Regions from separate parts of the Homo sapiens genome. Here regions 1, 3 and 4 are each reported to be linked to region 2. Evidence: microRNA targets listed by miRTarBase, many of them from high-throughput screens and not tested one by one. Region 2 holds a microRNA gene; each other region holds the end of a gene's coding sequence.
Evidence for each region. Region 2 holds the annotated microRNA hsa-miR-4721 (UGAGGGCUCCAGGUGACGGUGG, at 2,023-2,044, opposite strand). A microRNA usually pairs through its seed, bases 2 to 8, with sites in the 3' UTR of a target mRNA and lowers its output. Matches are read on the target gene's strand: a 7mer-m8 pairs with bases 2 to 8, a 7mer-A1 pairs with bases 2 to 7 and ends in A, and an 8mer does both.

Region 1 (3,000 bases), not on the chromosome of region 2:
AGCATGGTGTTGTGGCAGGGGGTTGGTCTGGAGTCTCCATCCTGCTTTCAATGTGAAGGCCCTTTGACAACTTATTTAACCTATGAACCTCCATCTTTCCATCTGGGAAATTATACCTCCCTCAGAGTTATGTAGATGAGGTGAAATAATATGGGCAAATTGTTAGGGGCTAGTGAACATGTTTTCTTATAAAACCCCACTCTTTCCCTTTGTCGTCTCAACTTTACTCTCCCTGATAAGCACAGTACACTGGAAGGAATCCGGGCTTTGAAGTCAGAAGCAGGCCCTAATCTCGTTCTGTCGCTTCCTTTCTGGCCCTGGACAATGAGCCTCACCTAGCTCCTTCATTCTTTTAGTAATGCCTGGCACACAGCAAGTCCACAATTTCTTATTGTTTTTTATTTTTAAGACAGAGTCTCGCTCTGTTGCCCAGGCTGGAGTGCAGTGGTGTGATCTCAGCTCACTGCAGCCTCCACCTCCCGGGCTCAAGCAATTCTCATGCCTCAGCCTATTGAGTAGCTGGGATTACAGGCACGCACCACCACACCTAATTTTTTTTTTTAGTAGAGACGGGGTTTCACCATGTTGTCCAGGGTGGTCTCAAACTCCTGACCTCAAGTGATCCCACCCATCTCGGCCTCCCAAAGTGCTGAGATTACAGGCGTGAGCCACTGCACCTGGCCGCAAGTCCCAATTTCTGTTGGAGGCACTGTTCTCAGTGCTGGAAGGAGCATTAAAGTCGAGAGACCAGCATCAATCACAGGATCACTGAGATAAATGAAAAAATATATAAAGGACTTAGAATAATATCCTTTTCCTCCAGAGCAGTTTTCTAACATTTTGAACCAGTGAAACCCTCATTTCAACAAAATCTTATTTAGCTCTCATTACATAAAACAGATTTTAAAAAACTGTTCTGGCTGAAGTCAGGATGGGAATTCTCGAGTCCTACCTGCTTGGGCTCACCCCAAGCGTGGTCTATGTACTCTAAGGGTAGCTTGAAAATTGGTGCTATAAACATCCCCCCTCTGTGGCCCACAAATTGTGCTTCCATTTCTTGTCTTCTCTCTCAGAGAATTCCTTCAGGTCCTCATCCAGTTAAGCAACTGGACCTGACAAAGAGTAAAACCTCTCTACCACTTTGTAGGTGCAGACAACCATGCGTGAAAACCTGGCCACAGTTGAGGGGAACTTTGCCAGCATTGATGAACGGATGAAGAAGCTGGGAAAGTGAGCACATTTGGGAGCTGGAGAACAGGGGTTATCCCTACCCCTGTGAACTCTGTTAACAGCTTACATAGGGTTTCCCCTTTACTATAACTCTAGCATCCCCATCCCATTTGACACTGGGGGCAAGGGTTCTTCTTGCATGTGGGGTTTATACCCCTCCCCTGATGAATACAGAGTGGTAGCTAGGGGTTGGTTATCATCAGAAGGTGGTCTCCCCTCAGGCCTGGGGGATAAGGACGTGGGCCCAGCCACATGCCAACTCATGTCCAATACTGCTTTGCCTGGTGTGGGGAAGGATTGGGTCTTGTCCCCCAACACAGCTTCTGTGGCTGACTGTAATACTGTACAACTGTTTCTGACCATTAAATGCTGTTGTACTCTGTGTGGCCTCTGCTGTGTTTCCTGGGGAGGAAGCAGCACTAGGATATAGATATTCATTCGTCATAACAGGCAATCTAAGCCACTCTATACTACAAGAGATGGATTTAAATTGTAACCTGTTCTTACCAAAGAACTAAATAAAAAATGAGTACAGAGCCAGAGCCAGAGTTTCAAAATATTCTCATCTGTTAAATTAAGAGTGTCTCCCATAGAAAAGCAGTGGAGGCCCCACAGGGCAAGTACAAAACAGAATTAAAACTCCCAAGGGTCTTGTCTTTACAAAAGAAAAGGCAGGAGGCAGCCCCTGGACAGCTGGTCATGCTGGCCGCTCCGGTTGGACCACGTTGCATAATCCTCAGTCGCATCATCACAACGTCTCTGAGCGTTTTGATGGGGGGAGAAGGGGCAGTGTAGTGTGTATGGGAGGAGAGGCCCAGAGGGCTCTCTTTGCCCCCTTACCCCCTTTTTTATATCCCAGAGGAAAGTCGGGGGAACCTGGCTACACCTTGAAATGAGGCTATGTGTTTCAAACCTGGGGACGGGGTAAGAGAGGATCTGTGCTTTGAGCAACCTGAGCCAGAGGCAGAGGGGTGTTGGAGGGGTAAGGGGAGGATGCATGATGCTTATTGCTTTGTACCTTTCACTGGGAAGGAGGGCAGCAGCCAACAGTAGCTCACAGGTTTGTAAACTGAGCCTGTTGGCTTTAAGAAGGGAGGCAATGAAATCGAATTAAATATAAAAGAGTCATTTGTGCAAAAATAACTTAAACAAATAAAAGACCTGGGGAAGGGGGTGTTCCCCTTAGCGCCTGGTGGGGAAAGGGCCATATACCATCCCCCCCAGGCCTTTTCAGTGACATGGCTTCGGGGGGGCGGGGGGGTGGTGGGGGGGGGTGAACTTCCCTGCCCCCTGCAATGGCTCAGGATGGGATTGTAGGGGAAGGAGTTGCATTTGTGCTCTGAGTGGGGAGTAGTGCCCCCACCCACTGTCCACAGGTGCAGGTGGCTGGCAGGGGCTCCCAAGGCTCAGCACTCAGCTCTCCCCAATCAGGGTCAGATCCAGCTCCAGGTATGGCTGCTATGGGGCCAGTTTCCTCCTCTTGTTTTTGGCAGGACGGCCAGGGCGGGCCCGGGGAGGCAGAGGGACAGCTGCCTAATATCAGAGGGGAAGTTGATAGAAGTGGTCAATTGCTAGGTATCAGGAAGTCTTCTTTTCTCCCCACTCCCTCTAACCCTCCTTTCCTCCTGCCGCCTCATCCCTTACACCCTACCCATCCACCCATCCACCCAAACACACACTTACTCGGGCTGTAGGGCTGGGTTCCAAGGTAATGTCCTGGCGGGAGCTATTGCTGTTCCGGGTAGGGCTGCAATAAGGGGCACAGATGAT
Region 2 (3,154 bases):
GGCCACTCTCTAGTTTTAAGAATACAGTATATAATACATATAACACACAAAGTATGTGTTTGTATGCTATCAGCGAGGCTTCTGGCCAGCAGCAGGTTACTAGTTACATTTTGGGGGAGTCAAGTTATATGTGAGGAGCCAGACACGGTAGCTTACACCTCTAATCCCAGCAGTTGGGGAGACCAAGGTTGAGCCCAGGAGTCCAAGGCTGCAGTGAGCTAGGATGGTGCCACCGCACCCAGCCTGGGTGACAGTGAGACCCTATATCTCTTTTTTTCCCTTTGTTCAGCCTCCCCATAGAGACCGTCGAAAATTGCCAATGCTGATTATATTTCAAGTCATCATGGAGTCATTGGCTATGATACTGCCACTGCACAAAGCTGGCCCCATCTCAAAAACAAGTTATATGTGGATTTGTGGCTGCATGGAGGAGGGCTGACACCCCTAACCCCTGCATTGTTCAAGGGTCAACTATAATATAAACATAACTTCACTGAGAAATCAAAAAATTTGTGACCTGCTTTATTGTGGTAGTCTGGAAGCAAACCTACAGCATCTGAGGTATGCCTGTCCAGTCCCTGTTCCCACAGAATGTGAATGGATGCTAGACATTCACTTAGTATTCCGAGGAAACAAGATGGGTTTGGCACCTGAGCTGAAGCCATGCTGGCTCCAGAGCGATAGAACATTCTTTCCCACTATCTCCCAGGAGGCTGAATAACGGCATCCTACTGTGTCTAGGCAATCACTAAGCTCACTGGACTTGATTTATCCGTTAAAACTGCTCTGGGATCTCACAAGCTCCCCATCTGTCTGGGGTTCAACACCCTTTTTGTCCTCCCCTATCCTCTCCAATTTGCACAAAGGACACAGGACACAGGCTGGCTTACTATTCAAAGTTTACTGACCTCCCCAGCCAGGCAGGCCAACCCTTCCGAGCAGGGGAAATGTCCATCTAGCTGCCCTCTGCTGGGTTGCAGCCTATGCCATGAGAGGGTACTGGAAGCAGGAGGGAGCCCTGGCTAGGGCAGGCCTTAAACGCAAGGGAAGCTGAGCAGAGATCTGCACACTCAACCCCATTTGATATTCTTCTCCTCCTCAGTCATGGCCAGCGTGTTGGTGACTAGACCGGTGCCAATAGTCCGGTTGCCATCTCGCAGGGTGAAACGCTGGCCTTTCTCTAAGATCATTGGCTGCCGCAAGATTAGGTTGAACTTCAGGTCCTCCCCGGGCATGGCAAGCTCCTAGAGTAGGAAGAGAAGGATCATGCGTGGCCTCCAGGGTGCCTTCATTCCTTAAGTCTTTTTTGGCTACCTCGGAGGTTAAGAGTCATGGGAGAATGCAGCAGGGGAATGGTTCTGCCTGGGGACAGCTTCATCCATCCCAGGCTGTCAGGCAGATGCAAACAGCATATTGAGACAGGAAAACATAAAAGAGACCAGTGATGAGTGTTCCTAAGGTATGTTCTTGAGAAAAAAATGTCTAGGAAGTTGTGGGTTATGCAGGTTTCTTGGTCACAGAACTTCTTAAGCCTTCATATATAATGAAACGCTCAAAAAGAAGAGACCTTTTCTAGGAAATCTTTCTGTGGGTACATGCTGGCAGAGCTAAACTTTTAACCTGCTTCAGCTTAGGGCACACTGGATGAGGACTCCCGCCCCTAAGTCCATGGGCCATGCCCCTTCTGTTGGCTAGCAGCGGCAAGCAGCCCCTTTCCACCTAAGGAAATAAAGCCACTCGGGTTGTCACAGTGTATCTTTGGAACTATGAGTGAAGCAAAGGTAATATAAAAAGTCCCCCCTCCACCCTACATTCCTCCCACCCACCGTACCTTCTCTGGGGGCAGGATAATCCGACAGGCCATGTCCCAAGTCAGGGAGAACATGACAGGCATGAAGTGGGACACAAAGGGCTTGTGGCGGCCACCTTCCTCCTTGCTGAGGATGTAAACCTGGAGGAGAGCAAGCAATGACGGTGAGCTGGGCTTGGCTGGAGGCTGGGGAGAGCTTGGCTCAACCCTGCCCACCGTCACCTGGAGCCCTCACCTGGGCCTCCACCTTCTGGTGGGGCTTGATGGAACCTGGCTTGACCATGACCAGGCCCCGCCGCAAGTCCTCCCGCTTCAAGCCTCGGACCAGGGCCCCGAGGTTATCTCCGGCCTCGGCCCTCTCCAGGCTCTTGTGGAACATCTCAATGCCTAGGACGGAAAGGGAAAAGGAGCAGGGAGAAGGAAGGCGAATGTGAGACAGAGGGAAGGCACAAGGGATCTGCCGGGGTAAGGCCACCCTTCAGCCAGGCCCTGCTCTCCAGACTGGCTTCCCAAACCTGTCACCACAGTGCGGATGTTCTTGCTATGTCCTAGGAGCTCACACTCGTCTCCCTTCTTTAAAATGCCACGCTCTAGTGTACCTGTCACCACGGTGCCACGGCCTGGGAGGGAATAAGACAGGATATCAGGGACCCCGAGCTAGGCTTCTGCTAGAGAGAGTGCGTGGGAACAGACAGAGTCCTCACCAGGGACGGAGTACACCGCCTCCACAGGCAGCAGGAAAGGCTTCTCCAGGTCCCGGGCGGGCACTGGGATGTAAGTGTCCACAGCATCCAGTAGCTTCTGCACAGACTTCAGGCCTAACTCAGGGTCCCGACCCTGTTGAGGGGAAGTGCCAGGACTCTGAAATCCCCATTCTACTTCCCTCGATTATCAAGAGCCACTTCCCAGACACAAAGCAGAGCTCTGGGTGCCCATCCAGCCCCACCCTCTGCAGCAGCTGCCCTGCCTGACCCCGCGTTCACCTCAAGGGCACAGAGAGCAGAGCCTACGATGACTGGGGTCTCCTCCCCTTTATAGCCAAACTCGGTGAGCAGCTCCCGGATCTCCAGTTCCACCAGTTCCACCATCTCAGAGTCCTGGACAGCGTCAGCCTTGTTCACATACACCACCACATGCTCCACCCCAATCTGTAGATGCCAGAGAGACAGGGACAATATACAGAGGGGCCCAACTCCCCACTCTTCCCTTTTGCATCCTTACCCAGGCTCTGAGTACCTGTCTGGCCAGTAATAAGTGCTCTCGGGTCTGGGGCATGGGGCCGTCATTGGCTGCTACCACCAGGATGCAGCCGTCGAGGGGTGCAGTGCCTGTGATCATATTCTG
Region 3 (3,000 bases), not on the chromosome of region 2:
GTGACCCTTCCCTTTTTAGCACGAAGCCAATCAAGAAATGAGATAGCGTAGAGTTTGGTCATGCATTTTTTGCCACAAATGCGACTAGGTATTTATAGGGTGTGTTTCTGAGTTTCTGCTCTGATTTGTAAACTGGGTTCTTGTTTTTTATTACCCAGCCTGAAGAAAGTTCGTGGCAAAGTCTGGAAGCAAAGAATATCTAGCCCTCTGTTCAACACCAAACAATACACAATGGAACTAGAGCGGCTCTATCTACAGATGTGGGAGCATTATGCAGCTGGCAACAAACCTGACCACATGATTAAGCCTGTTGAAGTCACTGAGTCAGCATAAATAAAGACTGCACAGGAGAATTACCCCTATACCTGAGCCTCAACCTTCTGGGGGAAAGGGAACTAGATAACATACTTCTTACTTGTCTGTACAGTACCTTGTTGCAGATGGGTGATATATAATGGTAATAGAATAGCACAGCCAGACTTGCTTCCTGCATGGTAGGGAGAGACACAAAAGATGGGAAACTGCTTTTCCACAAGGAATCTCCGTAGAATTTTGCGGCGACCAGATGGTGCATAGGTCTGGAAGGTCTGATCTCCCTTGGTCTTCCATGGGATGGTTAGTGTGGAGGGGAGATATAGATTGTCCGGCCGCTTTGTGATTCCATGGATTGATTCAGTCTTCTGGATTTTTTTTTCTTTATATTTTGGGTACTGGAGCTTTTAAAAATGTTTGGTTTCAGGTATTTTTATTCATGTGAAGTGTATATGATTCTCTTGAGATAAGGTTTTAAGCTAAAATGTTACTCCCTGTTTTAGTTTCTGAACTCTGACAGATTGACAGGGACTTTGCTGGTGTAGTCTTTTTATAGGTTTTATAAACCACTTGAGCCTATATCAGTCGTTTTAGTGTCTGACCTAATATTTGGAGCTATCAGTGCTTTGTTGATTTAGATGATGACTCAAGATTTTTTCTGGTCCATTTCCCATTTCCTTTTCTTCCCTGACCCCCATACCCTCACCCTTAAAATTCTCCTGTAACTCAACTAACAAAATCAAGCCTGATTCAAAACATCCTAGGGTGTTTTAAACACACCATCTGGTGCCAAATGAAGATTTTTAGGAGTGATTACTAATTATCAAGGGCACAGTTGTGGTACTGTCATTGATAATAATATAGTTTTTTTTTTTTTCCTAATTTTGACCTGTTTCACCAGTGTTTTACCCTTGACTGCCCCTTCTATGCTGCTTCCAAAAGTGATAGTGTGTGTAAGATTTTTACCTTCCTTTCTAAAGTTTTTTTTTTTTTTTTTTAAGTGAGTCCTGTTCTTCCTATTTCTTTCAGCAGAAATGAAATCCCAGGTAAGTATAAGTATTCAAGTATTTGATCAGTAAGTCACAGTTATCTCCAGTGCATTAAATAACCTTCATCAAGAAATAGGTTATAGGTAAAATCTCTGAAGGATCATCTATGTATTCAAGTAATTATTTTTTAGATAATAACTGTCTTCTGGACTTGGTCTTGAAGTCTGTACAGATTCAGCCTCAGTAGTAGCGAACTGCACTGCTGTTTGGTTTGGAGTACAAATTAGACTTATAGTCCTCCTGGAACTTGAGTTATTAAAATCATAGGAATAAAATTATGGGATCTCAACAAAGGGTCGAGGGTTTGAGGCTTAAACAAGCCAACATATGAATATATGTTTTGTCTCGCTATACTGCACTTACGCTATCCAGTTGCAGGTAATTTTTTGTCTGCTAGTAGTGTTCTAGATTATGTCTTTCCAAAGCGCTGAGGCTGTGCACCTATTCTGTAGTTGCAGCTGATGCCTGAATGTATCCTAGCTGACAAATTATTGATTAATAAGAACTTGAATTTCTGGAAGATTCTTACTGTTAACCAAATTTTGAGCAAGGAGTCTCAAAGGTAATTCTGAACCAGAATTACATGTTAATGAACAGTGTACCTTTTAACAGTGTAAATCACGGAATATCCGTGAAGGGATTTCTTAATTTATTTTTTACCGGTTGATTGAAATATCAGTTAAAGGTTGCCAGCATGGTTGCAGATAAACTGATGTTTGAAATTCGCTGAAATACTTAATGTGGAATAGGATAATATACTTCCAATGCCCTCAAGGCTGTGACCTTACAGCCATTTTACATAGCACATCATTCCTCCTATAGGGATGAACTTTTTCCTGGCACGAAAAGTAGCCGCTCTGGTTGAAGCTTTGCTTATTGTAACAGGCTTTTATTTCCAGGTAATATGTCTTGGAAGACTTAATTCTGATTAGAGATATAGATATTACTGGAAACTAATTGTTTTTTTTCTATTGTACTCTGCTTTATCAAAGAAGTAAAACATTTAAATCGTACTACAGAAATTAAGATGTTGTCTTGCGATCCTTAATAAATGAATGATTTCCCTTTAATACGGCTGATGTATTTTGTATCCTGTTATATTGAGTGTTGGACTGAAGAATAGTGTCATCCAATGATGAAACCTATATTTAAACACCTCCAAACAGCATGAAAGGACCAAATTTCCCTACTGTAGCTATGATATTAGGAATTGTTTTCTCAGCCAGGTCTGGTAGAGGGTGGGGTTAGTTTATGATCCATTAAGAAGGCAAAGTGGCCTTGTGTGGTGGCTCACGCCTGTAACCCCAGCACTTTGGGAGGCGGAGGCAGGTGGATCACTTGAGGTCAGGAGTTCAAGACCAGCCTGGCTAACATGGTGAAACCCTGTCTCTACTAAAAATACAAAAAAACTAGCCGGGAGTGGTGGCACACGCTTGTAATCCCAACTACATGCGAGGCTGAGACAGGAGAATCGCTTGAACCCGGGAGGCAGAGGTTGCAGTGAGCTGAGATCGTGCCATTGCATTCCAGCCTGGACAACAGAGTGAGATGTCATCTCAAAAAAAAAAAAAGACAAAGCCTGTGATCCCCAACACACCCATTCATGCTTGCTCCTCTTTTGCTTGTGACCTCTCTGCTT
Region 4 (3,155 bases), not on the chromosome of region 2:
ACAATGTTCTATACTGCTGAGCCATTCAGGATACTTGGGCCCTTAAAAGAGGTACACCCCTGTTCCTTCTTCTCATTCTTACCTCCCTCCCTTTGAGACAGGGTCTCACTCTGTCACCTAGGCTGGAGTGTAGTAGCATGATCATAGCTCACTGTAGCCTTGACCTCTGGGGCTCAAGTGATCCTCCCACCTCAGCCTTCTGAGTAGCTGGGACCACAGGCATGTGCTACCATGCCCAGCTAATTTTTAAATTTTTTGTCGACACGGGTCTCCCTGTGTTGCCTAGGCTGGTCTCCAACTCCTGGCTTCAAGCAATTCTCCCATTTGGCCTCCCAAAGTGCTGGAACTGTAGGTGTGGGCCACCATGCCCTGACTCCTCCCCCATCTCTATGTGCCAGTAGAAGAAAGAGTATTTGGGAATTAGAAGAGCTGGGTTATGGCTGAAATGTCTGCACTAACTAGCCGTGGGATTCAGGGAAGCCAGGTCATCTTCCTGGGTCTGTTCCTCATCTCCAAAATGGACTTTACATGCTCTAAGGTTACTCCTGCTCTAAAGTTCTAGTTTTCTTCTTGTAGCTTCTCCCGTCTTTTTTTTTTTTTTTTAAGAGACAGGGTCTTGCTATGTTGCCCAGGTTGGTCTCCAACTCTGGGCCTAAAGTGATCCTCCTGTCTTGGCCTCCCAAAGTGCTGGAATTAACAGGTATGAGCCACCACTTCGGCCTCCTCCTCTATCTCTATGTGCTCCTTTTTTGGGAATTTGCATTAGCCTTTTAGATGGGCTTAATAAATACTTTTTGTCTTCTTAAAATGTTTTTCTTAAAACTATGATAGTTACTTAAAAAAAGAAGTTTAGCTCACTGAAAGCACAGTTTCCTAAGTATGTAGTTTATGAAATTTGGAAAATAAGCAGACTGAATTTATTAGAGCTTTTGCAGTATCTTTTAATGCTCTCAATATATCCAATGTTTTCCTGGAGAGCTCTTTTGTCTTGGTGTGCAGTAATGTTGCATTCAGTAAATAGGTAAGAAGATAAAACGTCCCCTCCTTGGATTTTCCTAAATTGTTTCTCTGTGCATAATACATACCCTAATTATACACATGTATATGGTTTGATATAAAAGAGGTCATTGTTTATTTCATGTAAGTAATTATCTTTTCTTACCCTAACTTACTTTGAGGTATATTGTCATAAATGTAAATATATCAATTTAAAATGTTTAGTGTGAGGAATTTTAACTAATATATACATATAGCTATGTTACTATTACCCAAATCAATATAAGAAACTTTCCATCACCCCGAGAAAGTTCTCTCAAGTTCTCTCATATCCCTTTCCTCAGGCAATTACTATTCTGATTTTTATCACAATAGAGTAGTTTTTGCCTGTTCTTGCATATTGAATACAGTATGTATACGTAAAGAAAGAACTATCATGAAGGGGTGCAGACATGAATATTTTCAGCTGAAATCAAGGGCTAATAAACTGTAAGCTGGCTAGTGAGTGGAAAAAACAGAAATGTAACTATTAAAATATAATCACTTTGTTAAATTAAGTCAAACTTGATTAAGTGGAAAAAAATTGGCATATTTTAGAAAGCCCACATATACTGAATGATGAAATTAATAGTGTTCACAAAATGTTGAACCAATTTGGAAAAGAGATTATAGAATGAAGAAAAAACCATCATAGTCTAGAGAAGTGAGGCTGGGCACTGTGGCTCAAGTCTGCAATTCCAGCACTTTGTTTTGTTTTGAGACAAGGTCTCGCTCTGTCACCCAGGCTAGAGTGCAGTGGTGCAACGTTGGCTCATTGCAGCCTTGACCTCTGAGGCTCAAGCAATCCTCCTACCTCAGCCCCCAAAGTAGCTGGGACTATGTGTGCAAACTACCATGCCTGGCTAATTTTTAAATTTTTTGTAGAAATGAGATCTTACTATGTTGCCTAGGCTGGTCTTGAACTCCTAGACTCAAGTGATTCTCTCGCTTCAATCTCCCAAATTGCTGGGGATCGACTGAGGCCAGGGGTTGGAGACTAGTCTTGTCAACAGAGTGAGACAGCCATCTCTACAAAAAAAAAAAAAAAAATTAGCCAAGCCTGGTGATACATGCCTGTAGTCCCAATTACTCAGGAGGGCTGAGGTAGGAAGATTGCTTGAGCCTGGGAGTTTGAGGCTGCAGTGAACTGTGATCACGTCACTGCACTCCAGCCCTGGCGACAGAGTAAGTTGAGACTCTATTTCCAAAAAAAATAAGAAAAAGAGGAGTGAATGCCCCCTCTTCTCCAATCCAAATAATTGGATGATAAGTAATTAAAAACTGCTATGAATAGTAAGCCTTTAGTATCTTGGCCAGTTTATTACAGAGGACGATAAATGATTCCATGTGGATAGGGCATAACATACAGAGAATGAGACTATGCCAGAAATGGGAGGAGGCATTTGAAACAACATGAGTATCTCAGGGACAGATGGATTGATTCTGCTATTGGTAGGCCTGGAAGGCAAGGTCAGAAGTAGCAAAAAATGGATACCAAAAGCACTATTAGTCACCCAAGCTAAGTGGAATAGCTGGCCCAGTAGGAGAAATGCAGGTTTTGCTCTACACTAAGTTCTCCAACTCTTGATAAGCCTCCAAAAACAAATGTTAGGGGAAAAAAACGCAGCTGGTTATGAAAAGATATATCTCATTTCATTAAAAAATCAATGTCAATGCTGTTAATAGAATCCTTTTATCTTCAGGACAGAGGCAATGCCCTAAACAAACACCAGCTCAAGAGCCTCTGATGCCAACCTAGAGGGTACCCAAACACAAACTTAGCATAGAGGTAAGAATCTCTATGTCTTTTGGTGGAGGCAAAGCCATTTGGTTGGTACTTCACAGGAACATCTTTCTACCAAGTCTTCATCATATGGTATGTGCCACGAGTCTCCAGTTGTTTGCACCACTGTGTCATAGCTGAGAATACGCTGTTGAATTAAAAAGAGAACAAAACATTGAGAACAACACTAAAGGGCTACTTGGCCATTTCTCTTTCTGACACTTCTCAAGTTTGCTCCAGAAGAGTATTGATAATGGATTATCTCACTTAATAATGGATTTTCAAACAGCAGCAAACTCTGTGAAGATGAGCCCTAATATTAGGAGTTCCTTTTTTT

Region 1: the mRNA of MBD6 is a reported target of hsa-miR-4721. Seed matches in the 3' UTR shown: 7mer-m8 at 2,048-2,054.
Region 3: the mRNA of OGT is a reported target of hsa-miR-4721. Seed matches in the 3' UTR shown: 7mer-A1 at 2,128-2,134.
Region 4: the mRNA of PRORP is a reported target of hsa-miR-4721. Seed matches in the 3' UTR shown: 7mer-m8 at 2,130-2,136.

The regions. Positions count from the first base shown.
Region 1 is chr12:57,528,923-57,531,922 of GRCh38, reverse strand. MBD6 (methyl-CpG binding domain protein 6) reads right to left here. Exons shown (of 13, transcript NM_052897.4): 12 at 2,914-2,977; 13 at 1,775-2,763. The coding sequence ends at 2,689. It overlaps DCTN2 (dynactin subunit 2), which reads left to right. Exons shown (of 14, transcript NM_001261413.2): 14 at 1,148-1,872. The coding sequence ends at 1,234. Among named protein-coding and RNA genes, the nearest start is that of MBD6, 7.6 kb to the right of the region's middle.
Region 2 is chr16:28,841,905-28,845,058 of GRCh38, forward strand. It overlaps MIR4721 (microRNA 4721), which reads right to left and starts at 2,103; the gene lies at 2,015-2,103. TUFM (Tu translation elongation factor, mitochondrial) reads right to left here. Exons shown (of 10, transcript NM_003321.5): 4 at 3,047-3,151; 5 at 2,794-2,958; 6 at 2,515-2,647; 7 at 2,326-2,430; 8 at 2,046-2,197; 9 at 1,832-1,951; 10 at 507-1,244. The coding sequence ends at 1,071. RefSeq lists a silencer at 1-96.
Region 3 is chrX:71,573,462-71,576,461 of GRCh38, forward strand. It overlaps OGT (O-linked N-acetylglucosamine (GlcNAc) transferase), which reads left to right. Exons shown (of 22, transcript NM_181672.3): 22 at 159-2,431. The coding sequence ends at 333. Among named protein-coding and RNA genes, the nearest start is that of GCNA, 3.5 kb to the right of the region's middle.
Region 4 is chr14:35,273,246-35,276,400 of GRCh38, reverse strand. It overlaps PRORP (protein only RNase P catalytic subunit), which reads right to left. Exons shown (of 8, transcript NM_014672.4): 8 at 1-2,966. The coding sequence ends at 2,835. PRORP-PSMA6 (PRORP-PSMA6 readthrough) reads right to left here. Exons shown (of 15, transcript NR_182666.1): 8 at 2,110-2,966. Among named protein-coding and RNA genes, the nearest start is that of PSMA6, 18 kb to the left of the region's middle.